Regions from separate parts of the Homo sapiens genome. Here regions 1 and 2 are each linked to region 3. Evidence: fine-mapped QTL for protein levels in blood plasma. Region 3 holds a variant in brackets. A gene starts in each other region. All regions are shown on their reverse strands. Region 1 holds the start of SLC51B (SLC51 subunit beta). Region 2 holds the start of GPA33 (glycoprotein A33). Region 3 overlaps SLC10A2 (solute carrier family 10 member 2).

Evidence for each region. PIP is the posterior inclusion probability: the model's chance that the variant is causal. Protein levels are from antibody-based Olink assays in UK Biobank. Linkage for the fine-mapping came from a reference panel and not from the study's own genotypes, which makes the PIPs less certain.
Region 1: SLC51B starts here. The variant in region 3 is fine-mapped to the plasma level of the SLC51B protein (UK Biobank, PIP above 0.99).
Region 2: it holds the start of GPA33, and the variant in region 3 is fine-mapped to the plasma level of the GPA33 protein (UK Biobank, PIP above 0.99).

Annotation. Positions count from the first base shown.
Region 1 is chr15:65,039,371-65,049,627 of GRCh38, reverse strand. It overlaps SLC51B (SLC51 subunit beta), which reads right to left and starts at 4,241. Exons shown (of 4, transcript NM_178859.4): 1 at 4,046-4,241. It also overlaps a transcript of RASL12 not described here.
Region 2 is chr1:167,085,880-167,096,681 of GRCh38, reverse strand. GPA33 (glycoprotein A33) reads left to right here and starts at 6,305. Exons shown (of 7, transcript NM_005814.3): 1 at 6,305-6,437. The coding sequence starts at 6,395. STYXL2 (serine/threonine/tyrosine interacting like 2) reads right to left here and starts at 2,607. Exons shown (of 6, transcript NM_001080426.3): 1 at 2,488-2,607; 2 at 1,723-1,848. The coding sequence starts at 1,832. It overlaps LOC124904451 (a long non-coding RNA gene), which reads right to left and starts at 8,082. Exons shown (of 3, transcript XR_007066717.1): 1 at 7,998-8,082; 2 at 7,271-7,359; 3 at 5,301-5,896. RefSeq lists enhancers at 6,130-6,279, 9,895-10,394.
Region 3 is chr13:103,055,811-103,066,271 of GRCh38, reverse strand. It overlaps SLC10A2 (solute carrier family 10 member 2), which reads left to right. Exons shown (of 6, transcript NM_000452.3): 1 at 1-399; 2 at 7,890-8,008. The coding sequence starts at 23. Among named protein-coding and RNA genes, the nearest start is that of SLC10A2, 5.4 kb to the left of the region's middle. The variant C/T (reference allele first, on the strand shown) is at 216.

The DNA.
Region 1 (10,257 bases), not on the chromosome of region 3:
GGGTCTTCGCCTGCCTGTTCAGCGTCCGCACCTGGCTTCTACGAGCCCACAGCGCGCCCACGCGTTGCCATAGCAACTTGTCCCTTGGGTGTCATGCGGTAGCCAATCACAGGCCTGTGTTTCCCCACATGTCAAAGGCTGGGCCTATCACGCCTCTCTCCTGGGGATTGGCACGCCTACGACACAGAGAGGAGAAAAGGGAAAAGTGCCGGAGGGAAAGGCAGCTGCCGGCTCCTGATGCTGAGAGGGCACCCCCTGCCCCGACCCCGAGAGCTTTTTTTTTCTTTTTCTTTTTTTTTTGGACAAGTTAGCAGAATTGGTTTCTGTTATTTGCAAGGGAAGAACTTGAATCCATGCTCTCTGGATAAATCCCTTACTTCGTGTAGGCCTATTTCCATCCCAACTATTAATAATAAACTGAACCTCAGTCAATCTCAAAACAGTCAGACATTTTGACGTCTTCTTGTACTAACTGCATTATTACTACTTAATATAAAATTTTCTAGCATCCATACTTTACAAAACAAAAAGAAATAGGTAAAATTAATTTTGACAACATATATTATTCAGGCCAATATTAAAATTGTTAAGTTATTTCGCTTTTTTTTTTTTTTTTTTGAGACGGAGTCTCACTCTGTCGCCCAGGCTGGAGTGCAGTGGCACGATCTCTGCTCACTGCAACCTCCGCCTCCCAGGTTCAAGCGATTCTCCTGTCTCAGCCTCCTAAGTAGCTGGAATTACAGGCGCATGTCACTACCGCCCCACTAATTTTTGTATTTTTAGTAGAGATGGGGTTTCACCATGTTGGCCAGGCTGGTCTCGAACTCTTGACCTCAGGTGATCCACCCGCCTTGGCCTCCCAAAGTACTGGGATTACAGGAGTGAGCCACCGCGCCTGACCCAATAACACATTTTTTTAAAAGGACACGCATTAAACACATTAAGCTGTGTCTTGGGGAGGAGGAGGAAGGGAGTAGGAATGGAGATAAACGTAACTAAAATAAAACAAGAGAAGTGTTTTGAACAGATCAATTATAAAACATGCCATAGGGCACCAAGAAAAAAAGTGTACAGGGAGGATCGAAGCATTCTCAGGTCCCCTCACACTCTGTCACTGCCTTAGGTGCTCAACAATCTCAGCCCCAAATAGCCTTTGGACACTTAGCCAGGGGCATTCAAAAACAGCTAGATGGCAAACAGCCAGACAGAAAATTGGAGTATCAACAAAAGGACTAGCTTTACATCAGAGTTTCCTCTAGCACTAAATGCTCTGAGAAAACTAAAAAGGCATATCTACAAATTGCAAGGGAAAATATTTTGACACAAATACAATACTGACTTAAGCTTTTCATATGTGAATGATCATTCATATGCCAAGGTGGAGATGGAAGTCAGGGAGAAAAAAAGACCTTTCTTAGACTTTTTTTTTTTTCTTTTTTTTTCTTTTGAGACGGAGTCTTGCTCTGTCGCCCAGGCTGGAGTGCAGTGACGTGATCTCAGCTCACTGCAACCTATGCCTCCTGGGTCCAAGCGGTTCTCGTTTGTGCCTCTGCCTCCCAAGTAGTGGGACTACAGGGCATGCCACCACGCCAGGCTAATTTTTGTATTTTTAGTAATGATGGGGTTTCCTCATGTTTCCCAGGCTGGTCTTGAACTCGTGACATCAGGTAATCCACTCGCCTCGGCCTCCCAAAATGCTAGGAATACAGGCCTGAGCCACCGTGCCTGGCCCTTTCTTAGACTTTCAAGGACTCACATGCACACTGCCTACTTACTCATTTGAGGGAGATTCTATCTATCTATCTATCTATCTATCTATCTATCTATCTATCATCTATCGATCTATCTGTCTATCTATCTATCTGCCTACCTACCCATCTAAAATCATGGAAAGACAAAGTTACAAGAATGGCCAACAGATGTGATCTTGTGTTCTAGCTCCAACTGACTGTCCAGAGCACTGTCCAAGAAGGATTGTGACATTCCATCCAGTCTCAGATGTAAGAGTGCCTGGATTGATTAGTAACATCAGCCACAGGCCCCTGTGCCATATGCAAACCCCTGAACTCACAAAGAAAAGTATTGAAGTTGAGAAACCAAACACAGTCTTCTTCTAGGGTGTGGGATGAGATTTAGACACATGGGATATTCATGTTGACCACTCCTGTATTGTGTGGTTTCTTATGCGTATACACTGCTTTCATGAGAACAATACATGTAATTCCATTTTTAATGTGTGTATATATTTCTATGTATATTTTGTCTATTTGTATGTATGTTTTTTTTTTTTTGAGATGGAGTTTTGTTTTTGCTGCCCAGGCTGGAGTGCAATGGTGTGATCTCGGCTCACTGCAACCACCGCCTCCCAGGTTCAAGAAATTCTCTTGCCTCAGCCTCCTGAGTAGCTGGGACTACAGGCATGTGCCACCACACCTGGCTAATTTTTGTATTTTTAGTAGAGATGGGATTTCACCATGTTTGCCAGGTTGGTGATCCGCCTACCTCAGCCTCCCAAAGTGCTGGGATTACAGGTGTGAGCCACTGCACCCAGCCTTTGTATGCATTTTTAAATGTAGGTATTATTGTACTTATACCTTTTGAGACAACAATTCCAATTTTTGATATTTAATTAATGGAACTAATCAGATCAGTGTACAAAGACGCAGGTAAGCTATTGTCCACAGTGGAGTGGTGTTTTTTTGTTTTTTGTTTTTTGAGACAGAGTCTGGCTCTGTCACCCAGGCTGGAGTGCAATGGCACCATCTTGGCTCACTGCAACCTCCATCTCCCGGGCACAGGCGATCCTCTCACCTCAGCCTCCTGAGCAGCTGGTACAACAGGCATGTGCCACCACGCCCGGCTAATTTTTGTATTTTTTGTAGCGATGGGGTTTCATCATCTTGCCCAGGCCAGCCTTGAACTTCTGAGTTCAAGCGACCTGCCCACCTTGTCCTCCCAAAATGCTGGGATTACAGGCATGAGCCACCGCGCCTGGCCAAAATATGTTTAAAATATGTTTAATATTGTTACAGTAAACACATACCAACCAACAAAAAACCAAAATGACAAATTGGATACAAATCCAGAACCGAGAGTCAGCCCTCCTCAGCTATGTTAGATGCCACAGAAACAAGCGACATATTTCTTTCTTTTTTTTGAGACAGAGTTTCACTCTTTTTGCCCAGGCTGGAGTGCAATGGCATGATCTCAGCTCACTGCAACCTCCACCTCCCAGGTTCAAGTGATTCTCCTGCCTCAGCCTCCCAAGTAGCTGTGATTATAGGCATCCACCACCATGCCCAGCTAATTTTGTATTTATTTATTTAGAGACAGAGTTTCACTCTTGTTGCCCAGGCTGGAGTGTAGTGGCACCATCTCAGCTCACTGCAACCTCCGCCTCCCGAGTTCAAGTGATCCTCCTGCCTCAGCTTCCTGAGTAGCTGGGATTATAGGTGCCCGCCACCACATCCAGCTAATTTTTGTATTATTAGTAGAGACAGCATTTCACCACATTGGCCAGGCTGGTCTCGGAACTCCTGACCTGAGGTGATCCATCTGCCTCGGCCTCCCAAAGTGCTGGGATTACAGGCATGAGCCACCGCACCCGGCCAATTTTGTATTTTTAGTAGAGATGGGGTTTCACCACGTTAGCCGGGGTGGTCTCGAACTCCTGACCTCAGGTGATCGGCCTGCCTCGGCCTCCAAAAGTGCTGGAATTACAGGCGTGAGCCACTGCGCCCGGCCAAAGACATATTTCTATCAAAGCACGTATCCAGTTTGCTTCTAAAGTGAGCATCATATTGTCATTTGCATGATTAAATTAAACTTTATGCCTTATTTGCATTTTGTTAGTTTTGCCTTTAATGTTCTTTTCTTGTTCCAGGATCCCATTTAGGATGTCATACTGCATTTAGTTGTCTTGTCTCCTTAAGCCCCTCTGGGAGATCTCTGCATTTTAAACAGGGCTTAACCATCGTGCCATTGGACTGTGACTTCTGCCAAAGACCTGGGCCACCCATCCCCAAGGCAAGATGAGGACACTCACCCCGGATCCTGAGTTCCTGACGACTGCCTTGATCTGCTGTTGGGAGCAGCACCGATTTCTGTATCTTCCTTTTCCTCCTCTTTATGGGAGAACAGGATAGTCTTTGCACTTGAGCTCTCCCAGGCAGTAACAGCTGTCACTTAGGGGACAGTGCCTGGAGAGCCTGCGGCAGCTGGACCCATCTGGTAGCTCTGGCCTTAGCACACGCCCAGGCCTGGAGCCTTCTGTATCACTCCAGGGTGACTGACCTCTTGAATGAGTGCACTCAGAGTGCAAACAGGCTCCACCTGACTTTCACAATCCGAAAGCACCAGTAGCCCAGTGCTTTCATTGTTATGTGTTGGCCTCAAGTAAAGAGAAAACATCCGGATCCTCTGGACAGGCAGGAGAATGGACTGCAGAGGACCTGCGGTCTGTGGGTTCCATCACTGCAGGGGGATATGTAGTGTGCCCACTCCAGGTCTCTATTGCCCAATATCATCAATATTTAACCACGGAGCAGGGAGCCAGGCTGGCCTTTTACAGCCTGTGCTTTCTCATAGTGAAGGTCATGGCATGATGTGAATTCCTCACAAGGAGCTGTAAAATATGACCTTTGGAGGTGGGGGTTGGGAAAGGCTGTGTGAGCACCAGTGACCCAGAGAGTAGGAAGCAGGCCAAGGCAAGTAACTTGATGGGGAAGCAGGAATGAGGTGCTCCTCCCACCTGACCAGCACCATTCAACTCTGATAGTCTATGGACTTTTCCACCAACTGGCTCCGTGCATCTTAGGCAATCATTGTTGGTTTAGCAAGGAGTGGGCTTATGTGAAATAAGCCCACTCCTTTTTTTTTTTTTTTTTTTTTTTTGAGATGGAGTCTCGCTGTGTCACCCAGGCTGGAGAGCAGTGGCACAATCTTGGCTCACTGCAACCTCCACCTCCCCGGTTCAAGCAATTCTCCTGCCTCAGCCTCCTGAGTAGCTGGGACTACAAGTATGTGCCATCATGCCCGGCTAATTTTTTCTATTTTTAGTAGAGATGGTGTTTCACCGTGTTAGCCAGGATAGTCTTGATCTCCTGACCTCGTGATCTGCCCACCTCAGACTCCCAAAGTGCTGGGATTACAGGCATGAGCCACCACGCCCAGCCGCCCACTCTTATTTCTTACTTCACAAATGAAACAGAGGCTGAGTGAGGTCACATGTCAAGCCCAAACTCCTCTATGAGTTAAACATTAGTCAACAGTGTGTACTGTGTGTGCATGGGGCAGAGGAAAGAAGACCCAACAGGGAATCTAGGGGCTGCCTGGAACTCCAGCTCCTCCTCATTTTGTAATGCATTCATTTATTCATTGAATAAATGTTACTTGAGCATCTACTGTGTAGATACATGGTAAATAAGACAGGTGAGGGCCCTGCTCCATTGGAGCTCAAACTCCAGGGGAGATAGCCAACAAAAAAGTAAGCAAAAGCATAATTAAAAGATAATTATAGCAGTGATCATTTCTGTGAATATCTTAAACAACATAATAAGATAGAAAGGGATGAGGTGGGGGAGACATGATTACTATATTACTACACTAAAAACTGAATGATGAGGGGTTAACCATGCAAAGACCTGAAAAAGCAGGTACAAAGGCCAGGCGTGGTGGCTCATGCCTGTAATCCCAGCACTTTGGGAGGCCAAGGCAGGTGTATCACCTGAGGTCAGGAGTTCGAGACCAGCCTGACCAACAAGGTGAAACTCCGTCTCTACTAAAAATAAAAAAATTAGCCAGGTGTGGTGGCAGGCGCCTGTAGTCCCAGCTACTCAGGAGGCTGAGACAGGAGAACTGCTTGAACCCGGGAGGCGGAGGTTGCAGTGAGCTGAGATCGCACCACTGCACTCCAGCCTGGGCAACAGAGCAAGACTTCATCTCAGAAAAAAAAAGAAAAGAAAAGAAAGCAAGCAGGTACAAAGACACTGAAGAAATAATGAGCTTAATGTGTCTGGAACAAAAAGGTGGCCAATATAGCTGAATCATAGTGATGAGGGGGAAGTGGCATGGAATAAAGTCAGAGGACAGACAGGAGTATCCACTCCTCATGGTGGGCCTTGTAAAACAGGGTAAGGAGTTTGTATTTTACCCTAAAAGTGATGAGAAGCCACTGGAGGGTTTAGGCAGGAAAGTGACATAATCTAATTGACATTTGTCTAAGATCACTTGGCCTGCTGGGTGGAAAATGGATTGTAGGAGAGCAAGAGAGGAACAGGGAGACCATTGGGAGGCTGTTATATTCATCCAGGCAAAACATATTAGTAGTTTGGACCAGGCTGGTGGCAGTGGAGATGATGAGAAGTGGTCAGATTCAGGGTGCATTTTGGAGAGAAAGGTAGTTGATAGATTTCAAGAGAGAAGCTCAACACTAACTCTCTTAAACACAAAAGGAATTTATTGGCTCATAAACTAGGAAGGGCAGGGTGGAGCTGACCTGAGGCATACGGGAACCAGGGATTTGACGACCCGTAGTGCTTTGTTTCTGTGGCTCTTTCCCTGCTTTTCTCTGGGTGCCAGGCTCATTACCCCAGGCTGGCCACCTCCGGGAAGCTTGACCAGATGATAGGAAACCCAGGCTCATGCTCTCATAGCTGCAGAGGAAGTAGCTACTTTTCTTAGCTCTTGTTTAAAAATTCTTGGAAAGGACTCTAATTGTCCAGCCTGAGTCATGTACCTATGTCTTGGATCAATTGTTATGGCTAGGGAGGGGGGTACCACTGATAGCCAACTCAGAGCTCATCATGCCTGTTGGGTAGCCAGGAGAGACAGGCTGTGAGCTGGACAGCCCATGCCATGTGGGTGCCTGAAGGAACCATTTGACCTCAATCCCCCTTGTCTGCCTCTGAGGAGTGTTGTGGTGCTCTAATGGGATGGTGTCCCCTTAACAAGGAGCCTGCACAATCCCAGGTTTTCCACTCTTCTGCTTCTGTGTCTTTTCTCTCCCTCCTCTTACCCTAGCTCTTTCTACTACGGCCTATCCAATAACTTGTTCCATGGTTGCCATGTGCCAGGCATTATGCCAGTGATAAACAGTCGAAAGGATTGTCCCTGCCCTCATGGAGACTCCAGTCTAGCAGAACAGACAGACGGGTGTTCATCATGTCATCACAACTTCTGTGTGACAAGTGCCATGAAGGAAACGTACACATGGAGATGAGAGCACATCACCAAGCCCTCCTTTCCTCACAGCATCACTATCATTCCTGGCCAATCAATCCCACCTTGAAATCTCCTCTCCTGACTTCTCCAGTCTCTTATCTCCCTACCTAGAGGATGATAGACAGTCAGCAGTGTAGTGGAGTGGAAAGGGCTTTTGGTTTTCCTCTGCTATTCTGGTATCTGCCACCTGCTAACCCTTCAAGCCTCAGCTTAAATGTCATCTTCTTAGGGAGGCCTTCCATATCAGTTGAGAATTGTGTTTGGCTCTGGGTAACAAAGACCCAATGTCAGTGGTTTAAACCATAAGAGTTTATTTTCTCATAGAAGAATGTCAGAAGTAGCCAGTTATTAATGTCGTAAGACCAAGGAAATCAGGGCTGAGGTTTCTAAGACTCCCTCATGGCCCCTAGATGGCTGATGCAGCTCCTGCCATTATATCCAAGTTCCAAGCAGAAAAAAAAGCAAAAGGGAAGAAGGACAAAAAGGTGTGACCATGCTCTATAGTAAACGAATAACCTATCTGAGAGTAAACTCAGATAATACAGAGAACTAAGGTCAAGGGAGTTATTCCCAGAAAACAGTAGCAAGGGCAGCCAGGTGGGCTAACCAAAGAACTTACTCTACTGCCAGGGTGGAGGTCTTCACAGCTCATGCCCAGCAGGATTTGATAACTGTCATGGGCCTGTGCTGCTGTGTGGACTGTAGCACAGCCTGCTAATTTCCCCCTAGATTACATTCTTCCCTTCTTCCTTTTAATAAGAGAATCCTCTAAATTTTAGAGGCATATGGCCACCCAACTGGAAACTGCAGTTCCCAGGCCAGGCGTGGTGGTTCATGCCTATAATCCCAGCACTTTGGGAGGCCGAGGTGGTCGGATCACGAGGTCAGGAGTTCAAGACCAGCCTGGCCAACATGGTGATACCCCATCTCTCCTAAAAATACAAATTAGCCAGGCATGGTGGCGTGCACCTGTAATCCCAGCTACTCAGGAGGCTGAGGCAGGAGAATCGCTTGAACCTGGGAGGTGGCGTGAGCTGAGATCACGCCATTGTACTCCAGCCTGGGTGACAGAGCAAGACTCCATCTTAAAATAAATAAATAAATTAATTAATTAAAAAAATTAATGAACCTGCATTTCCCAGATTCCCTGCAGTCATAAGTGGTCCTCTAAGTTTTGGCCGAAAGAGACCTGAGAAGTGATTGCAACTTCAGAATCACTATTTTTTTTTTTTTGAAATTTATACAAACTTTTTTTTGTTGGAGTATACATATAGGAAAGTACACAAATGGTAAGCTTAGTGAATTTTCACATGTGGACACACTCATGCATGGGAACATATGCCATCCAGATCAACAAATAAAACAATTGCACCATTGCATCCTGTACTCCAGCCTAAGCAACAGAGTAAGACCCTGTCTCTAAAAGAAAAAAAGAAAAAGAAATAGAACATTTCCAGATCTCAGAAGTCTTCTCTTGTCACTATCCCTTACAAAGGCAACCTGACTTTTAATACCATAGATTAATTTTGTCTGTTTTTATACTTTATATAAATGTAATCAATCAATATGCAATCTTTTGTGTCAGCTTCTTTTGCTCTACATTATACTTGTGAGATTCATCCGCGTTGTGTGTAGTTGTGGTTCATTCATTCTTGTTGTAGCGTAGTATTCTATTGTGTGACTATGCTGCACTATTTCTACCTGTGGATCATGTTTTTGTGAGAAAATTCAACCCCTCCACTTCCTCATTCCTCTTTCTGGAACACAGATATGATGGTGGAAAGGACATGTCAGGACAGGGGTTGTTAACCTATGGGCCAGATCTTTCTCTTTTTTTGAGATGGAGTGTCGCTCTGTTGCCAGGCTGGAGTGCAGTGGGGAGATCTTGGCTCACTGCAATCTCTGCCTCCCGGGTTCAATCGAGTCTCCTTCCTCAGCCTCCCAAGTGGTTGGGACTACAGGCACGTACCACCACGCCCAGCTAATTTTTGTATTTTTAGTAGAGATGGGGTTTCACCATGTTGGTCAGGATGTTCTCAATCTCTTGACCTCATGATCCGCCCGCCTTGGCCTCCCAAAATGCTGGGATTACAGGCGTGAGCCACCGCACCTGGCCTATGGGCCAAATCTGACCTGCAGCCTGGTTTTGTAAAAAAAAAAAAAAATAATAATAATAATAATAATTCTTACTGGGACACGCCATGCTCATTTGTTTACATATTGTCTAGGGTTGCTTTGGCATTACATTAGCAGAATGGAGCAGTTGTGACGATTGGCCCACAAAGCCTAAAATATTTGCCATTTGGTCCTCATTTACCAAACAAAAAAAGTGCCAGCTGGGTGCAGTGACTCACGCCTGTAATCCCAGCACTTTAGTAGGCTGAGGCAGGTGGATCACCTGAGTTCAGGAGTTCGAGACCACCCTGGGCAACATGGTGAAACCCTGTCTCTACTAAAAATACAAAATTAGCCAGGCTGTTGGCGCATGCCTGTAGTCCCAGCTACTTGGGAGGCTGAGGCAGGAGGATGACTTGAACCTGGGAGGTGGAGGTTGCGGTGAGCCAAGATCACACCACTGTACTCCAGCCTGGGCAATAGAATGAGACCCCATCTCAAAAAAAAAAAAGACAACCCAGGCAACAAGATAGAAGGAATTTGAGCTCCTGATTAACCTCAGGTAGCTGAGCAGCCTACCTGCCCTGGACCACCTATCAGCTTCTGAAAGTGTTATGTACAGGAAAAGTTTGGGGATCTCCCTGTTACAGAAACTTACTCTGTACTGTAACTAATACATACATTCTGCATGTTTAAAAATGGTTTATTGGATAAGTAAATAACATGGCAGCAGAACTAACTTCTAGTCCTGTCCATCTTTGCTACTGACCAGCTGTGTGATCTTGAGCTAGTCACTGGGACCTCAAGTTTTTATCAAAACGCATTAAGGTTCTACAAGGAGTGAAAAAGCAAAGGATTTTAGCAACTACTATCAGAAGGAGCCAATTGTGTAATGACAAAGTCCAGGCCCTTTAAACATGG
Region 2 (10,802 bases), not on the chromosome of region 3:
TGCTGAGTTCTAGACGATAGAATATGAGTGAAAATGAAGTGACCATTTTCACATCTGGACCATAAAACCTCCTGGGAAATTATCCGTGCTTGTCTCCATTTTATGTTAATACTGATGAGCATTGTGACTTTAGAAGCCATGCTTTAAAGTGGTGAACCTTCAAGACAGAAGGAGTCTTAGTTCTTGAATCACTGCTCAGGTACCTGTTTTGGAACTTATTTGAGCAAGAAAGAAATGTCCTTTAGATATAATAGCTAGCATTACTCTTAGCAATACACGAAACTGTCACCTATCCCAACCACACACGAAGCGACCTCTGCCTTATTCGGGGGTATACAAGAGAGGAGGACCTATGTTAAATCTCTCAATCCTGAGAGTTTTCCTAAGTGGGACCATAATGCTGAATTTTCTTTTCTTTTTTTTTGAGATGGAGTCTCGCTCTGTCGCCCAGGCTGAAGTTCAGTGGCGCGATCTCGGCTCACTGAAACCTCCGCCTCCCGGGTTCAAGTGATTCTCCTGCTTCAGCCTCCTGAGTAGCTGAGATTACAGGCACCTACCACCACACCTGGCTAAGTTTTGTATTTTTAGTAGAGATGGGGTTTCACTATATTGGCCAGGCTGGGCTTGATCTCCTGACCTCATGATCCTCCCACCTCGGCCTCCCAACATAATGCTGAATTTTAAAGGAGAAGTCTCTAAGCTCCATTTGGGCGAAGTGCCCTGGCCCATGAGTGCTGAGCACCTGCCCTCATTCCTGTCTTACTCCACTGGGGAAGCCTTTTGACACAGGAAGCAGGAGCCAGCAAGATCCCAAGAGCATCAGAGAAAAGTGAAATCAAGCAGAATGATAAATTCTTAGAGGGGAAGTTAATTTCAGATGTTTTAGTTAGGCGCTTCCAACTAAAGGCTCAATCACTTCAGTTATTCTTCACACCAATTTGGTGACAGAGATGTGATTAAAAGTCAGGTCTCCTGTTATGATTTATGACAGAAGAAAATGGACAGGCACACACAGTATTGTTTTAGCAGGCAATTAAGCACGACATTTCTTTAACGTCTCGTGGTTTGTCTTAAAATGTTATGCACATTTTTTTCATTCTACATGATAACATAACGTCGATGATTTTAATGTAAAAGAAAGTTTCAAATTACTTGTGGTAAAAAGAGGACTCTCCAGGAAGATGCCTCATGCCTCTTGGCATCTTGCCACTTGCCCCAGGCATGCACATGTCCCAGTTTAAAAGACACAGCTTGATTATGGATAAAAAATTATTTTAGTGCTAGGGAATGCTTCCATGGGCTTCTCCTCTCCTCATCCCTTTTCTTATAGTCTACGGCCTGTCATCCCCATATCCAGCCCCAGTCCTACTGAATCAAGCAGGGCCAAATTCCTACTCATCCTCTGAGGTTCGGGTCCATCATCATCTCTTCCAGCCAAGCCTCCTATGACCTTCCAAGTCCAGTTGTTCCCTTCCCTATTGTCTAGTCCACCACATACTAGATCCTGGTCATATTAATATCTAGCACACACCTGCCACATTGCAATCAGTCTATTTGCATATTTACCTCCTCCAGAAAGTAGGACACATACAAGTACTCAATAATATTTGTTAAATGAGTGAACCGAGGTGATGGCTGCAGGCTCCCTGGAGCTAATGGCCCAACCTGTCCCCAGCCCCTCCCAGCTGGGGCTGTGAGGGTGGGAGATAAGTGGTCACTTACTGGCTAGGGGAGGGGCTTCGGAGGTAGTGGGCCTGCACCGCCCTCACGTTGGCTTCGTCCTCCTCGCTTGGGACTACCTGCTCCTCCTCTGTGTCCTTTCTGGTCGCCATGACAACCTGCCAACCTCTGAAAGTTTGGCAAGAAAAAGGCAGTTAGGGAATTAGGTTCCTGAGGTTTTGTTGGGGGAGAAGTTGTGTTGGTGATGTCACCTCAGTGGAACTAGGACTAGGAAGGTCCCGGTGGGCAAAAGACCAGCAAGGAATATCCAGTCAGACCTGGCCCAGCCACTGTTACCGGGACACCAAGAAGTGCACCCCGCCATATTAGGAGCCCACCTTGAAGTGACAATATTGAAGTGCCAGTGTGGCTCCTTCCACAGATGTCAGCAAGGGAGCAGGCAGAGGAGCCAGCAGGTTACCTGATCTCAGCTCAAAAAGTTGAAGAACAATGACTTCCCTGGACCAGCAAGATTTTTCAGTTGAAATTATAGGATGTGCATACACACACGCCCCTCACCTATGCCCATGCGCACACCTTTGTCTCTGCTGGGGAAGACACAGCTGGCCTTCGGTGTCTCTAACCAAGGCCACAGGAGGTAGGGCCTTTGGCTCAGGCGTCATCCTGGAGCCTATTAAAGGACATGAAGGATACCAGCAGCTGGTCCCAGCCATCATGGTTGTGCCCTGACACTCAGGGCAAAGCCGCTGCCCCTTGTATTGTAAGTCCTGGGCTCACCAGGATTGACAAGGGGAGAAGCACACTCACCTCTAACCTGCCTGGATGTTCCCCACCAAGGGCTGAGGGACCCAGATGAAATGACTGAAGCTGAAGCTCCGGCCAGTGAGACAGGAACCAGCCACCTCCTTCCTCAGGGCTTCTTCTCCTAGGGGCAGGACAGCTGTTAACAGGAAACCTTAGCCACCCTCTAAATTTAGCCTCTGGCCCCATAGGCTGGCAGATTTCTGGGAGGAAGGAATGCAGGCTCTGGACCCAGGCCCCAAAGCAGTCCTCACTTAACTCTTTCCCTCCTGGCTGATTCTCCAGACGCTTACATTTAGCAGCAGAATTGGAAGACGTTTGTGCTTGGTAGATGGAGAATCTAAAGAACAGCTTTTCTCTGGGTTCTCTCTTCAGACCCTCTTGCCTGGGACAGCCTATTCAAAGTTCTTCCAGAAGAGAGTCTAAATCCAAAGATATAGAAGAATAAACAAACTTACCACAGCCGCATGTCAACTAGAGAGGCCTAAAAAAAGGACCAGATATATAGAATGGAAAGGGTACTCAACAGATAGATATTGGGAGAGCACTGTGGTACAATTAAAGAGTAGTCATTGCTTGTGACCAGGATTACATTTCTTTTTCTTTTTTTTTAGACAGGGTCTCGCTCTGTTGCCCTGGTGAAAGTGCAGTGGTGCCATCACAGCTCACTGCGGCCTCAACCTCTCAGGGTCAGGTGATTCTCCCACCTCAGCCTCCTGAGTAGCTGGGAGTACAGGCACATGCCACCACACCCAGATAATTTTTAAATTTTTTGTAGAGATGGGGTCTCACTGTGTTGCCCAGGCTGGTCTCGAGCTCCTGGGCTGAAGTGATCCATCCACCTCCGTCCACCAAAGTGCTGGGATTACAGGTGTGAGCCACCGTGCCCTGCCTGCATTTCTTTTAATAGACATGTCTCAGGATGGTCAACTGGACAGTTGTGCTCACCCTCCACATTTCCTCCCCTCTACTCACACCCCAAGGTGATAATGGATTGGCAACCCTGGGTGACTTAAGAATTCCATGAGCTTCATAAATGTCAAATAAGCTGTCTTACCCTACTAACCCCTCTACCATCACAATGATCAAAGCAAAGCCAAATAGCCCACACCTCTCATCCCACACATACCATAGTCATCCTTTCATCCATTTATCCATCCATTTACCAACTTAAAATATTCATTGATTACCTACTACATATGACACTTTACTTGACCAAAATTGGCAAAACACATAGCTTAAAGTTGTCTTTCTTCCTAGTTAGGTGGAATGATGCCTGGTATATCGTATCATTAGAAATGGCTGAATGAATGAGCTCACTGTTTATTAGGAGGAATGAGACACAGACCAAAAATAACTCAAGCATAAGAGAGAATGTAGTTAGTGTCCTAAAAGAGATCCAGAGTGCTGTGTGAGTTCAAAGGTGAGAAAGAGCCCTTCTGACTGAAGAAATCAGGAAAGACTTCATAGAAGCAGTGGTGATATATGAGCTGACTTCTAAAGGACAAGTAAGATTATAATAGCAGATATAGTAGGGGAAGGGAATTACCGAGGGGGTGGCATCAATAAAGTTTTGGGGGTAAGGAAGTATGAGTTCTGGGTATGAAAATATGTCTAACTTGGTCAGAGCATAAATTACGTATTCTGGAAGGTAGACTGTGTTTGAGAACAAATGCTAGAATACCTTAAAAGCTAATTTGTTAGGTTCTGCAGAGTCAGTGATAGGACCCAAGCAGACAAGTAATTAGGAAGACTAATTTGGCAAAGATATTATAAAATGTTGGGGCTGAACAATTATTACATATAATAAGAGAATTAACAAGGTGCCTGAGTGAAATGTAATAAACAGAAAACAACAAATTTTGTATGTCAACCAAACCTAGCAGTCAAAAGGATTAATAACAATAAGTCATGTAGGATACTATGAATTCATAACACAAAGAAATGCTAGGGGAAATATTTGCAATGCTTATCACATCCAAAAGTTCCTTTCCCTAATATACAAAGATCTGCTAGAAGTCAACAAGCTAAAGATCAACAGCTCAATAGAAATATGGCCAAACGGCTGGACGTGGTGGCTCATGCCTGTAATCCCAGCATTTTGGGAGACTGAGGCAGGATTGCTTGAGCCCAGGAATTCAAGACCAGCCTGGTCAACGTAGCGAGATTCTGTGTCTATATTTTTAAAAATTTATTAAAAAAAGAAATACGGGCAAATGAGCTACCTAGTCTCAGAAAAGAAAATATATATGATGTGCAACTATATTAAAAGATTTTCAATTTCACTAATAATTTTTTTTTTTGAGACAGAGTCTTGCTCTGTCGCCCAGGCTGGAGTGCAGTGGCACCATCTTGGCTCACTGCAAGCTCTGCCTCCCGAGTTCACCATTCTCCTGCCTCAGCCTCCCAAGTAGCTGGGATTACAGGCGCACACCACCACACCTGGCTAATGTTTTGTATTTTTAGTAGAGGCGGGGTTTCACCGTGTTAGCCAGGATGGCCTCGATCTCTTGACCTCGTGATCAGCCCACCTTGGCCTCTCAAAGTGCTGTGATTACAGGCGTGAGCCACCGCGCCTGGCCAAATTTCACTAATAATTTTAAAAAGTAAATTATATATACATGGGATATCATGTTCACTTAGATTGGCGATGAGCAGAAAGTTTGATAACTGTGTCATAAACACTTGGTAACTGTGTTAGTGAGTGTGTGGGGAGATAGGTATCCTTATATGCTGCTAATAGGAGTGTAGGCTGTAAAATTCTCATGGTAGCTAGTTTAGCAATATCTATAAAAATTACAAATATGCATAACTTTCAGTGAGTCAGAAATTTTACTTTTAAGAATTTATCTTACATGTATAATCACAACACGTGTGAAATATCGTACACATAATAGATATTGGTTGCAATCTTTTCATAGTTGTGAAAGATGAGGAAAAACAATCTTAAAAGTAGTTTGGTTAAATAAATCATGTCACTCATATACAGTGAAATATCATCCCCATTTTAAAAAGATGATGGTGGTGGTGCTATACATACCGATACAGAAAGCTTTCTAAAACCTTTCATTAAATGAAAAATGAATAAATCATTGCAGAACAGTGTATATATATCTAAAATATCTATGGAAGAAACCAGCAACAGCCACTGCTCCTGGAGAATTATGGTCCCACACCACTGATCATTCTTTCAGTAGGGTGACCATCATCCAAATTTGCTTGGGACTGAGGGGGTTCCTTTTGGTTTGAAAACCAGGACAGTCCTAGGAAAAGTGAGACAAGTTGGTCACATGTCCCCAAGATGATCTTCTTTCACTTATGAACTTGCTACTTTCCCAGTCAGAATATAAACTCTGAAGGGGGAGACTTCCTGTTTTCTTCATGACTATATCTCTTGCGCACTGTGGGGTGGAGGCTGTAGAAGAGGAGAGAAGTAGAGAAACAGATCACATTGTGTCTTGAAGTGTTTCAGCAAATATGGGCAACACCCTTCTTTTACTAGCTTGGAACCCTACCTCTGAGTGCATTTCCCTTTTTATTATTTATTTCCTGTCAGTTATAAGAGAGGCCTACCCCTTTGTGAGCAGTCTAGGACTTTGTACACTTGTTAAGTAGGGAGAAGGCAGGGGAGGTGGCTGGTTTAAGGGGAACTTGAGGGAAGTAGGGAAGACTCCTCTTGGGACCTTTGGAGTAGGTGACACATGAGCCCAGCCCCAGCTCACCTGCCAATCCAGCTGAGGAGCTCACCTGCCAATCCAGCTGAGGCTGGGCAGAGGTGGGTGAGAAGAGGGAAAATTGCAGGGACCTCCAGTTGGGCCAGGCCAGAAGCTGCTGTAGCTTTAACCAGACAGCTCAGACCTGTCTGGAGGCTGCCAGTGACAGGTTAGGTTTAGGGCAGAGAAGAAGCAAGACCATGGTGGGGAAGATGTGGCCTGTGTTGTGGACACTCTGTGCAGGTGAGTAGGCCCCTTTTCTCTCCAGTGCCCAGGGGTGGGTGAGACATGGGGACCTAGGGCTGAAGGAGAGGCTCTGTCAGAGCCTTCCCAGGAAGGGCCTCCAGCAACACAGCTGCGTTCCTGCTGGGCCAGAATTACACATTCCGGACCAGTGCCCAGAATCAGAATGGTTTTTATTTACATATTAGTAAATAACATTCTAGCCCACTGCTGAAATGAAGAATTCAAAGTACTCTCAAGACCATATTTTCTTATCCCAAATTAGATTATAGGATCAGACACAGGATTTGACAATGTGGACAAAGTATTTGAAATCGGAGTTGTCCTAGAAAATCCAGGATGTGTGGATCTAGATATGTTCATTATCTAGTATATTAACGTTTGTGTTAAAACCAGAGAAAGAGACAGGAAACTGAGGCAGAAGAGACAATGCAACTTATCCCGTATCATTCACAGAGCAAGAGAAGATTCAAACCCTAAAAACAAACAACAAACTAGATGGGTCTTTTCCAAAGGCCAAAGCTCCTTGCCACTTCTGGGACCCTGGTCATTGAAAATTCTGGGACTCTGAGCATTTCCCTCTGGGAGGGAAACCTCCCAGAACAAAATCAGACATTCATGAGTATATGGTTGAATCCACATCAAGTGCTTAATAGCACAGTGTTCTGTGGGGACCTATGGAGTGTCTAAGGGTTAGAATGAAAGTCTTGGCATTAAGGTACCAACCATTTTGCTGGGCATTGGAAGGAAATAGAATGGAGAGAAGGAAGTTGAGAGACGCAGGGTTTGGCAAAGTTTAGGAATATCTTTGGTTTAGTGTATTTGGCCATCACCTTGCAATTCAGACACTGTTGAGGGCTTCCAGGATCCAGCTGCAACGGGGAGGAGAAGAGCTATACCAGGAAACTCAGGAGCACCAAGCCTGGGGAAGTGGAAACCAGGAGACTGGTTTAGAGCTCACTTTTTAGCATACACAGGAAAGCCCCGGGCCACGGGGCCTACAGCTCATTCTGGTTCTCCCAGGCCCTAGACATGCTTTTCTCTCAACACCTGGCCTTGGGGCTCTCGAGGGAAGGGCAGCCTGCTGCTGGGGAAGGGCTGGATCACACGGTTTGGAGGAAGATCTGGGTAAGATCATTCTCTCAGGCTGGCTCAAGTTCATCTGACTGAAGGCAGAAAGCCCCTCATCATCCACCAAGATGGACTGGTTGGCTCATTCCTTTATCCAAACAACTCTTTACTGAGCACATAGTTTGTGCAGGTGCCATAGAAGTGAGGAGTCTGGAATGATTAGTCATAAGTGGGCCTATCTCAGCCATCAGATTCAGGCAGGGAGGATGCTCCAGGGCCTGAGAGAGGGAGGCTGAAGGAAATACCCATCCTTCCCTGGCTGGGCCAGTGATTCTCCCATCTTCTCCTGGTAAGCCAGAAGCTCCTCCATGCCTGCACCACCCCAACCCCCAACACATATCCCCACACTTGTAGACTGGCTGCGACCCATGCATGAATAAAAATAAGAAATTTTGGCTTAGAAAAACGATCTTAAAACAAGATGCTCACCCAGCTTGGAGGGAAAAGTGGCCGTAACTCTGAATTGCCTGGAGCAGGACATTTTGCTTCTTCCTATGAGAAGGCAAGTGACCCCTGGGGAACTCACCCAGCAGAACGAGTCTTGGGCATGTTTTCAGACACACTGATGAAGTGTCTTCTACCTCCGCCCCATCCCTCCCACCACAGCCTGCCCAGCACAGAATCACGTGCCCACCAACTTTTCTTCCTCCATATCTTACATTAAGAGGAAGAAGGGGCCAGAGCAGTGGGGCAGGAGAAGCCAGGCTTGGTGGTCGACTTGAGGTATATAAACAGAGTTTACCAAATAGTGAAATAGCCATTGCCACTGCAGGTGAGCAAGGAAGACCTTCAAAGGTCGACCAAAAGCAACCAGGCGGCCCTCCCCACCATGCCTCATGAGAGGATACCACCTCTTCCTTTGCGCAGGTAAGGGAGACCCAGTTAGGAGCAGGGACATTAGGAAAGGCTTCCTGGAGGAGGTGGAGCTTGACTTGGGTTCCAGAGGACTTACTGGGCTTTTCTCTTCTTTCTCTTCCCATCTGACCTTTCCGAGGAATTGATTCTGCTAAGACCTGGGCAGGGAAGCACTGCACTGATGAATGGGCCTCAAGACTCAAGTGGTGTTGGAGGAAGCAGAAGCTATTCATAAGGTTCCATGCAGGGGGCACAAACGCAAGGCCGTGCTTTTAAAGTAGGGAGTTTAAAAGCAATCATAAAACCGACTAAAAGTTGGTCTGCTTTGTGTGTGTGTGTGTGTGTGTGAGACAGAGTCTGGCTTGCTCAGGCTGGAGTGCAGTGGTGTGATCTCAGCTCACTGCAACCTCCGCCTCCCAGGTTCAAGAAATTCTCCTGCCTCAGCCTCCCTAGTAGCTGGGATTACAGGCATGCACCACCATGCCCAGCTAATTTTTTGTATTTTTAGTAGAGACAGGGTTTCACCATGCTGGCCAGACTGGTCTTGAACTCTTGACCTCGCAATAAGCCCGCCTCAGCCTCCCAAAGTGCTGGGATTACAGGTGTGAGCCACCGTTGGTCTGCTTTTTATGATTATCATGTGCTGACAATTCTAAACAGAGTCAGTGACAAAACAGACCTCCATGCCTGGGAAATGTTCCACCCGTCCCTCCTAACACTCCACTGCCATCCCAGGGGACCAAAGGGGGCTGACCCCAGTGCCTCTTAACTGACTATGGTGTGGGCAAATGGCTTCACTTTGCTAAAGTCTTCTTGCACAGTCTTCTAGTCTGAAATGGAGGGGTGTAAAATTCACACTGTGCCCCAACAGGGCTATTATAGGTACTAAATGAGTTTGCACATGTAAAAATCTTAGAAGAGGACTTGACACATAATAACAACTCAATAAATGCCAGTTATGAGTGCAGTTATTATTATTACTGTGGGGGAATGTAAGTTACAGAAAATTAGTAGACTTTGGTGACCAATTATCCGAGAGCTCTGAGATGGCAGACACGTGCCAAGAAAGGGAGTCAGAGGTCACTGTGGATGAACCCTAAGTTATCACCAAAAAAGCCGCCATGCGCTGCCCCCTCCACAAGGCTGTTAGAGAAAATGCTCCAATGTGTGCACAAAATCAAGGCACTTCCATTCCAGGATTTTTTTTCAGCCACCAGACTTCATGAAAGATTTGATGTGCTGCAATGTGCCGCTGCATGAAAAGGGATGCATAAAGAGGCAAGCTCCAGGAGACAAAAGTCACTGAACAGCTCTGCTCAGAGCCAGTGAAACCTTTGAAGACCCAATCTCTCACACACACACACACACTTACTTACACACCCCACCTTCCTAGAATGAGAGGAAGCTTCCTTGTTTTTCTAAGTTAAATGAGAAAAACTCAGGAGAACTTTAACCTGGGAAAGGTGTAAAAGCTTTCTTCTCTCTAGAAAAAAATGTTTTTTCTCCCCCCATATAAAAAAGTTTCAGAAAACCCACAGGTGCTTGATCCATGAAGAGTTTTTGAAGGGAACCAAGTTTGCAAGTTGCTGACATTTTGAGGCTGATTGTGCCATTTTAGAACCCTTCCCTGGCATCTTTGTTAGAGGCACAATCCCAGCAGGAAGATTTTTCCTAAATGTGGTGCCCTACACTTGTCTGCTCTGAAGTGCCATGTTCGTGTGGATCACACAGGTGTGGGTTGGTCCCTGGGGTCTGCCCTATCACGATGGCCTATCTGAGCCCAGTGTCACATGTCTAAGCTCTGTGCAGTGGCCTAGCCTAAGATATGTGGTTTAGGGGCTTAGCCTCAGATGTGCACTTCTGATGAGACCCTGGACCTCAAGAGGGTAGTATTTGGGCCAGAGCCGGGGTGGTGTCAGCCCGCAAATGCAACTGCAAGATAAGCGGCCCGCCCACCATCTGCTCTGTGGCCCTGGGTCCTGTTGCCATTCCAATCCTAAATTAGCCTGGCTCCCCGCTGGGGCCTGGGCCCCACCTGCTGGCACCTGAGCACAAGTCAGAAGCCAGTGCTTGTAGGAAGAGCTCATGCACCTGGAATGAATCACATTGCCTCCCTGTCAGAGACGCAATCAGGATTAAAATGTCCTACTCTAGTCTCAGTCCCAGCCTCAATGGAGAAAAGATGTTATGAATGGTCGGTCTAAGAAGGTTAGGTGTTCAAAAGAGGAAGACTAATAGTTTAGGCCAGTGGCTCTCAACCCTGGTTGCCCATCAGAGTCACCTGGGAAGTGAAAATACAGATGCCCAGTCTCCCCCATACCTTCTGAGTCAGAATCCAGAGGGGAAGGATCTGGGTTTCTCTCTGGTTTTTGAAAAGTT
Region 3 (10,461 bases):
CTTTCCAGCAGCAGACCCAGCAATGAATGATCCGAACAGCTGTGTGGACAATGCAACAGTTTGCTCTGGTGCATCCTGTGTGGTACCTGAGAGCAATTTCAATAACATCCTAAGTGTGGTCCTAAGTACGGTGCTGACCATCCTGTTGGCCTTGGTGATGTTCTCCATGGGATGCAACGTGGAAATCAAGAAATTTCTAGGGCACATAAAGCGGC[C/T]GTGGGGCATTTGTGTTGGCTTCCTCTGTCAGTTTGGAATCATGCCCCTCACAGGATTCATCCTGTCGGTGGCCTTTGACATCCTCCCGCTCCAGGCCGTAGTGGTGCTCATTATAGGATGCTGCCCTGGAGGAACTGCCTCCAATATCTTGGCCTATTGGGTCGATGGCGACATGGACCTGAGGTAAGATTATCTATACCTCTAACTACTGCAATCACCTTGGAGTAATCCTTCCAGAAGCCTATGGCATTCTGAATGTCCAACTGATTTGCCACGCATCTAAAGTATGACTAAGGAATCAAACAGGAGAGAATAAATGCATTCCCGTGCCTTCTAGCACAGCTGCTTAGCTATTGGAATTGGGGGATTTATATTTTGTGTTTGTGTTTTTAAATCTAACTCAGTTAACAGGGAGTTGCATAATTGCTGTTGATCTCTAGGAAAAGATTCAAAGCTTTTTTAAAAAAGTAATCTTTTCCAAACCACAAGCTGCAGCTGAGGAGGTTTATCCTGTTGGTAGCAGGAAAAAAAAAGCAAAATACACTTTCTTTGTAATGATGAGGAGCTCTGGGTGCAATCATAAAATAAAACTGTTTGTCAAACATTAGAACCTGTAGTGAGACAGTGGTCAACTCCATCAAATATAGCCAGTTCTTTGGGCAAACATTTTCCTGGTATAAAACCTAAGGAAGAATTTGTAAATTTGCTTCACCTCTACTGGCATTAAAAGTGGGGGAAAAAGCCTATAGCAGCTTTTTTAAAATTATGCTTACCTTACTACAAAATAAACAGAAAACGTTTTCTCCACTTCCTACAGAGTAATCTAAATTGCAATGTTTGCCCATTTCATCCCGTGCCAGTCTGAACTAGCACTGGAAAAAAAAACTAATAGAAATAAGATGAAGCATTAATGTGACTAGATTGAGAAATTTAATGCTAAAAGTTGAATAGACAAATGTCTTTTTCCTTAGCTCACAATTCCTCATTTCCCTTGAAAGGTATGCATTTCCTTCTGCAAACCATCCAGGTGCTAATGCAACGTGTGCTTATTAAATACTGTACAGTAGGCAATTAGCTCTGTTCATCCCCAGCTACTATTGGCAGAGGAGAGAAGCACAAAGTGTAGAATTGTAAACACTGGATTGATAGAGTACCCAGTGATCAATTAGGAACCTGCTGTCTCATTTCAACTGGTGCTGGTTTCTCCAGAAGCTTTAGAAAAGTCATACAAACCCTATACCTTCATATGGTTTAGTCTTTCACATAAGAAAACACATGATATCCACCTTGCAATTGCTTTTTTTTTTTTAAGGAAAGCCCTATAAAACAACATAGGATGGCAAGTGCTATTCAGGTTTAGTTAATCTGTGAACCACGATATAGCAATAAGGTCTTTTTAGACCTCAATTTAGTTTGACCTGGACACAGGTACACAGAAGTGAGAATTCTAAATGCCAGCACCTGTTACACTGAGAAAAGTGAACTACTTGGAACATTGGGCCTTGACCCCCAATAAACAGCTTTCTCATAATATTTGTAACTTTTAGTGCAGAGGAGTTTTGTACCTCAATGTAATACCACATATGGAACCCTTTTATAAGACAGAAAAAAAACGTGTGTGGTACTGGACTATTAGGTTGTTGAAATGAATTCTCTTCTGTGAGCTAAAAACAGTAAGATCTAACCTAAAAGCTCCAAGTTACATTTTTCTGTGGTTTTAAGGAAATCTTATTTCTCTTGAAACAGGAGATGATTATGTAATCCTGTCCACCTAGCATAACAATTCCTATAAATTATTTTTTTTAATAAGAACTAAAAGTAGAATATGAAGCTTTGGTAGAAACCTCCAGCTAAATCCGTGCAAATGAATCCTTCCAGCAAGTCAAAATAAGCCCTGTAACGCAACATGGAGCAACCTCACCTATCCAGAGCTCAACAAGACCCAATAAAAGACACTGCACACCCAAAATAAATTTCACTTAATCTCATAAATGCTCCTCATGCGGGACCGACTTAACTATTTTTATTTTAAAGTTCTGTTGTGCTATTTCCCAGAAATAAGAAGCGGGGAAGGAAGCAGAGTGTTAGGAAGGGCAAAAGAGAAGATCAAATGCCTGCAAAGCAAAGCAGACACTGACAACACACAGCCATCTCTCTATCATTTATCCTCTATCACTTATTCTCTCTATCACATATTCTCTCTTAATTATCAATTATTCTCTCTGGTTTCTGTAGCACTTATTCCAGTCTCTGGTCTCTGTATCACTTACTCTTCTACAAACACAAGAAGATGTCACGGTATTTTAGAACAACCGATAATCATGTTTATCATGATCGGTCTTAATCATTGAGAAGAGGTTAAATTATACTGCTATGTAAGATGATGACATTATGCATTGTGTGTTAGGAAAACAATATTCCAATATTTCTTTAATACAAATTAATTAAAAGGGTAAAACCTGAGCTATTGCGTAACAGTTTTCCAAAACTTTTTATTCTTCTGGATTAAGAACTGGATAACTAAAGTCTCCTGATAATTTACTTAGATACAATCCTATCTAACATTTATATTTCCAGTTGTGTACACTTAGAATTTTACCTTCTCCATCTCCACTTGAACTCCAGCAATGGCATGAAGACATGACTGTTTATGTTAACAGGCAGCTACACTAATTGAGCTAATGCCACACAATGCCAGCAAAACCATTCCACCTGGTTTTAACTCTCTTGGTTATGGTTCTTGGGAGAAGAAACCAAAACATTTCTCTCTCACTCTGTCATCTCTTATGAACCTGGAAAGCCACCGCATTTTGCAATCTCTAGTGACTTTGAAAAACAAAAAAAAAATAGACAATAGTCCTTGATCATTGGAATCCAGCAAGTACTATTTCAGCTCCTTCTCTGACCACTCCCAGCCTGGAGTTTGTGAATCTGATTGGTGCACATATATTTTCACCTAAGTTGCAGCTGTGCCATGGACATCACATGCACAAAAAGCATCAGGGAGAAGAGATGGTGACTTTTCAGGTGAATCTGCTTGTGGCCAAAACCCATAGTTGAGAGGACACAGAAACATCCTATCTCCTTTTTGTCTGCTCTCTCCCCAGACACAGGCAAATATCCGGTGTCTTCATCCTTCTTAATGGCCTCAGCGACACCATGCAAGGACTTCTCATTTCCTTTCTTTGGCTTCCTCTTTGGGGAATCCATTCTTATGCATCCTTCTCCCAGTTGCCCCCAGTTCCTTCCCTGCCACCTACTTTCTACATTCCTTTTTATTATTTTACAGACTTTCCTACCACATCCTTTGTTCTTTGGGCAAATGCTGTTAGATTTTTCAGCTTCCAGTGCAGCATTCATTGATATTTTAGATATTCAAGAAATCTCACCCTGTAGCTTACCACAAATTCACAGCAATCAATCCTTCCTATGTCAACCCCATAAATGTCCTTCTCTTCTCTACTCTGGGAGACCTAACCCAAAACCATTCGGCTTTTTCCTTTATTCTCCCTAAAAGTAACCAAACATTGTTTCTCTCCAGTAGCACTGATTTTACTAGCTAATATTTATTAAACACTAGTATATGCCATGCACAGTGCTAAGTACTCAAAATAAGTTGGTATATTTCATCCTCCCAAGAATCCTCTAAAGTTAGTACTATTATTTTCTGCATTTGGCAGATAATGAAGTTAAGATTCATAACCTTGACCAAGGTCATTGAGTCAATGTATGCCTGAGTCAGAATTGGAATCACCCAGGTCTACCCACTACCACTTTGCAGGCTCATAAGCTTTCTCTACACTGCTTCTATCACTTTTCACTTCTCCAGTTTCTAGCACTGCCTATATACGCTACGTTAGAGCCTTCAAACTTGGTATTTTACTTCTAATATGATTACAATCTTTTACATTGCTTAACACTGATTTCACTGAATTCCTCAACATTCACTAAATTTACATTTATTCTTTCTTTTATTTCCATACACACAAAAGAAAATCTCCCTGGCAGTTAATAGAGCTGAAGTCAAAATTAAGACCAAGATTTTTTTTTTATTTTTCTTATACTTGACTCTTTTCTGTCAGTCTAATATAAATTCAAGGCAGTGTATGTATTTTTTATATACATGCCTTTTATAGAACTTCAGATTTTTTCGTGTAAGATAATATTTTCTTTTGCTAATTTAGGCTTCTATATTATTTCTTAAAATTCGTTATCTGTGAATTGTTTTAAATCTCATTTTGAGTGGTTTGATTTTGTTCTTATATTCATTCAAATAGCATCAACTTCCAGCTACCTATTCGTCTGTTCATCTGCAAGGTCTCTTCGTCAGTGCTGCTCACAAGTCTAAACCTTTCCTTCTCCAAACCCTCTTTTGTCCCTCATCACGATCCTTAAGAAACTGCTCTCACCAAACTCAAAATTATGATACAACGTCATAGATTGTCTTAGCAATATTCAGAATTAAAGGTTTTGCAAGGATCTTTGAAAAAAAAACAAAGACAGAAAAAGACTTCCTTCTTAAACATTTTCTCACATTTTAAAACAAAAATTCTCAGACTTCTCTTCACTGGAACCCAGTTAATAAATCCTCCTCACTTCCCCACCAGATTCCCACCACACTCTAGAAAAAAATATTGGATGCACAGAAAAAAAAGTGATTTTATTATAGGGACAACTTTAAATCCATTCTAATATATTTTTTAAAATAAAATAAAAAAAAAGAGAACACTGAAAGAAGAGAGGAAGGAACAGAGAAAAAAATTACCTTCAAACTCCAGTACTTTCATTATAAGTAGGACAAAGTACTATTAATAACAAATTAACTTGTTTGTCTGGTGTACAATTCTGCCTTAGCATCTATTTCATGCCTAAATTTACCTATAACCAGAATAGATTGAACTGCTTAAAGTTTTAAATACATCCACATTATTTGTTACTGTTGTAATATTTTAGCTCTACTAAAACAAGTATTTTTATCTAAATTATTTAAGCCTATTTTAAATGAGGTCATTCTGGTTAAAAATAAATATATTATTAGAGAAGTTAAGCTCTCTGATGAACTTTGTCCCACCCTGTATTTTGCCAAACTGTGCAAATTTAACTGTGCCTTGAAACAAAATTTCTCATTGTTAGCTCCTTTCTTAGTATAGTGTGTTGTTGTTGTTGTTGTTTTGGGGGGCAGGTAATATAAATATTTAACATTTTCTTTCAAGTACACCCATAATACCCTTAAGAAATTACTACTCTTGACAACCTCAATGACGACCTGTTGAGAGAAGGGCCTTTCAGAGAAATTTCTCATTTCTCTAAGTTTCCCGATTCTATTTGGTGGAACACAAGATACAAAAACATGGTAACATAAATGATCACAGCAGAGAGATGCAGGGTGCGGTGGCTCCCGCCTGTAATCCCAGCACTTTGGAAGGCCTAGGCGAGCGGATCACCTGAGCCCAGGAGTTTGAGACCAGCCTGGACAACATGGTGAAACCCCATCTCTACAAAAAATTTAAAAATTAGCCTGGCATGGTGGCTCATGCCTGTATTCCCAGCTACTCGGGAGGCTGAGGTGCAAAGATCACTTGAGCCCAGGCTTCAGTGAGCCAAGTTGGTGACCCTGTACTCTGGCCTGGGTGACAGAGAGAGACCCTATTTAAAAAAAAAAAAAAAAAAAAAATGGTAGTAGCAACCAGCTCTTAATAGAGTGCTTTGCATTGGTCTAAGTGCCGGACACCATTGGCTCATTCTATCCTTACAGCCATTTTAGATAAGGAAACTGGTAAAGAGAAGTCAACTAAATTACTCAAATTAACACACTAAGTGGCACCGCCTGCTTTCAGCCCAGACAGTGTGTGGCTTTAGAGCTCAGGCTTTAAAGGCAGAGAATGTACGCTGTGTACAGATCCCTTTGAAGAGGACCCGGAAGACTCACTCCCCAAAAATCTTTCTTTGACCCACTGTCCTAGTACTAGAGATAGCATCATTTGGCATTAATGTCTCCATGTAGATAGCCTACTCAGCCAGACCCTCTTATTAAAATGCAAACACTCTGAGCAGGGATGATACCAGACACTAGTTCTTCTGAACACACATTTGCCAAATTGCCAATAACTTACTCAGTGCTAAGAATTTATGTCTACCCTGCCGCTTGCATGCTTTCTTTTGATTTTTAAGTCAGCTTCCGCTTCTTGTCCCAAGCTAGGGTCACTTGGGCAGTAATTTTTCTGCTTTATGGCAACACAGCGAGGCCTCCTCCCTCGGACATGCATTCTATTCCAGGGGCCCAGGGAGGCCCATTCCATCTCAGCATGGTCAGACACATGCAGCCTTGGTGGTGTCAGCTGCTTTAAATGTGTTTGCTGTTCTTTGATTGAATGTTTGAAGGATGGCACACCCAGCGAACCTTATACATTATTTAATGATGACTTTAACCCATCGTTTAATACTGTTTCTGACCCTTAAGAATAAAAGGGGAGGGAAGGACGGCACAAGGCAAAGTGGAAAGACACCAAATATGGCCCATTTTGCTCAAGGCCAGGCCCTGAATACACTCAGGCACATAGGCACATGTATATTACTGTTCATCACACCAGACGATGCTACAGGTTGAGACAGATTCTTGCAGGACTTTCTTATCATGAATCGAAAATAAAAATTTTCTCCCATTCGGGAGGTTGTTTGTCTACTCTGCTTATAGTTTCCTTTGCTGTGCAGAAGCTCTTTAGTTTAATTAGATTCCAAGAAAACAATGAACAAACCCATTAAAAAGTGGGCAAATGACATGAACGGATGCTTCTCAAAAGAAGTCACACATGCAGCCAACAATCATATGAAAAAAAGTTCAACATCACTGATCATTAGAGAAATGCAAATCAAAACCACAATGAAATGCCATATCACATCAGTCAGAATGGCTATTATTAAAAAGGCAAAAATTAACAGATGCTGGCGAGGTTACAGAGAAAAAGGAATACTTATCTTCTGTTGGTGGGAGTGTAAATTAGTTCATCCATTGCGGAAAGCAGTGTGGCAATTCCTCAAAGACCTAAAAACAGAAATACACTCAACCCATCAATCCCATTACTGGGTATATACCCAAAAGAATACAAATCGTTCTATTATAAAGACACATGCACACATATGTCCACCGCAGCACTATTTACAATGGCATACATATGGAATCAACCTAATTGCCCATCAATGATAGACTGGATAAAGAAAATGTGGTACATACACACCATGGAATACTATGCAGCCATAAAAATGGACTAGATCAAGTCTTTTGCAGGAACATGGATGGAGCTGGAGGCCATTATCCTTAGCAAAGTAACACAAGGACAGAAAACCAAATACTGCATGTTCTCACTTATAAGTGGGAGCTAAATGATGAGAACGCATGGACACATAGAGGGGAACACAGACACTGGGGCCTATTAGAGGGTGGAGGGTGGGAGGAAAGAGAGGATCAGGAAACATAACTAATGGGTACTAGGCTTAATACCTAGGCAATGAAATAATCTGTACAACAAACCCCCATGACACAAGTTGACCTATATAACAAACATGCACATATACCCCTAAACTTAAAATAAAAGTTAAATTAAAAAATAAAAATAAAACAGCATCTTCCCTAGAACACCACAGGTGGATGTATCAATCTGCCCATTGCCTTTCAGCGTCAGCATGACCACATGCTCCACACTGCTTGCCCTCGGAATGATGCCGCTGTGCCTCCTTATCTATACCAAAATGTGGGTCGACTCTGGGAGCATCGTAATTCCCTATGATAACATAGGTAAGTCATCCATCTGTAAGACTGTTGACTGTTACCCTCAAACTCTCTGCTTACCCCCTGCTAGGCTCTCAGACCAGGCTCACACCTGACCGTTATTGCCCTAGTAGGAGTTTTTGCCTGATTTCATTATAAAGTCACCCCTGCGTTTGGAGAGTGATGGCAGAATGTAAATTCCAAACCTTGACCTTATGGGAGAACCTGTCTTTTCTTCAATTTGAATCACCAGGGAAAGGAGCCCCCTCCCCAGCCCTCAGTCTGGACTGAGGAGGCTTAAGCTTTGGGGACATGGGAGCTTGCACCTATTCCTTAACCCAGAGTGTCACTAGTTAATGGTCATAGGATTTTGCATCCAGACACTTGAATTGAAGAAATTTTTTTTTTTTTTGAGATGGAGTCTCACTCTGCCACCCAGCCTGGAGTGCAGGGGCGTGATCTCGGCTCACTGCAAATTTCACCCCCTGGGTTCAAGCAATTCTCCTGCCTCAGCCTCCCTAGTAGCTGGAATTACAAGCATGCACTACCACGCCTGGCTAATTTTTGTATTTTTAATAGGGACGGGGTTTCTCCATGTTGGTCAGGCTGGTCTCAAACTCCTGACCTCAAGTGATCTGCCGGCCTCAGCCTCCCAAAGTGGGATAACATGCATGAGCCACCACGCCCAGCCTGAAGAAATTTTTTAAAATCACATAATGGTTTCAAAATAGAGCACTGAGTAAGCAATCCAGAGTGTTACAACAGAAAACTGCTAGACGAAACACACTGTTTCTAACACTCGACTGTGAGCCACACCTTGACCCAAAAGTTGATTTAATGGCAAAGTCATGCTCCAGGAGTCAAATTTACTAGTAATGACTCTGTCTCATTTCACCCTCATCCCAAAAACCTTATTTTCTGTTTCTGGGGAAACAAATTATAGTGGGAGATTAAGTTATTGTTGTAACTTAGGGATGAGGGTCAAAGGAAGAACAAGAGAGTTCCTGGTATACCAGGAATAGGCATTTCCCACAGAACTATCACGAACAAAAGACAAGATGTGGGCAAAATAGTAAATCAGTAACAATCACCAGGTACACTATATGCCCCAAATACCTGGGTTTTTTTCCCCACTGACCTTGGAAAAAAATCCCAATGAGCTGCCTCAGAAAGGTGTGGGTTTCCCATTGAAGAAAGCATCCAAGCAAAGGCTAAATGATAAGCCACCTGGATGCTTGTAAAAGGGACTCCTATTGGGATAGGAAGCTGGGCTGAAATGCCTTCCATTTCTGAGAAAGACTGCTTCTGTGATTTAGGGTGATTGAGGGAATATACAACTGAATTAGAATAAACTTTGTGAATACTAATTGGGGATGATCTGTATTACAATGTTTGTAGCCTCTTCTCTCTCTCCTACTCTTACCATTACCATTAGACCAAAAAAAAAATTGTCCTCCTTGACATGCCCTATTCAGTATGGGCTTTTGATATACAAGATTCTTCAGACTCCAGGAGAGAACCTTAATATCATATATAACCTCCTGACAAGAGACTTTAGGGTGACCCTCCACTACCACCTGCTTTTGCCTTCATGCTGCTTGACTCTCTGGCTGCTCTGTCAGCGGACGCCTTCCATAGAGCTAAAAACCATAGTTTACGTGAGTGGTGACCATTATATCCCTCTCAAAGAACCTGTCTGCTGAGTGAGGAATTTTGATTCCACAATACTCACTGTAATAATTTAATAATTTAAGCCATAAAATATTCTCCTTTTGATATACATTCCCTTCTGAGAAATGACTCATGGAAATACTGAATAATTCTAACTGCAGTGTGAATGACTTATACCATATTCTGTGATGTGAATAAATTTTGAAATAAGGAGAAAATGAAAAATCAATTAGCACTTCAATGGAGGAAAAGGTCATCATAAGAGGTCAAGAGTGAAAAGAAAAGAAAAATAGGAAAAGAGAAAAGAAAACGGAAAAAGAGAGAAGTTTGAAAAACAAAGATATTGTTATATGTAAAATATTTATTCAGAAACAGAATACTTGTTCCTCAGTACCACAAGGAAAAATGAGCATTCAGACAAAAAGTTTTCTCAGCAAGGCAATTTTACTTTCTGCAGAAAGAGTGCTCCTCACAGATGGCACAATGGTGACAGCACACCTGAACAATGGAGGGAAGTAATTCGTATCCCTTATGCAGCTTGTCCCTGCTACTGTGTCCTGTCTCCATTGGCTGGAGCCAGACATCACAATCTAAGCTAAAACCTGACTGGCTAATAATTTAAAACTTTTCTAAATAGGTATAGGCAATAGACAACAAAGGAAAAGAGGACGTTGCTTGTGAAAGGACTTAGAAAAGTAATAATATTTCCAAATAAGGAAGGGGCATAGGCTGCAAGCTGGAATGTACCTGTGAGCATGTTCAGCATAAATATCTTGGTTAAAGTACAAGGACATAGAATGTACTTATTC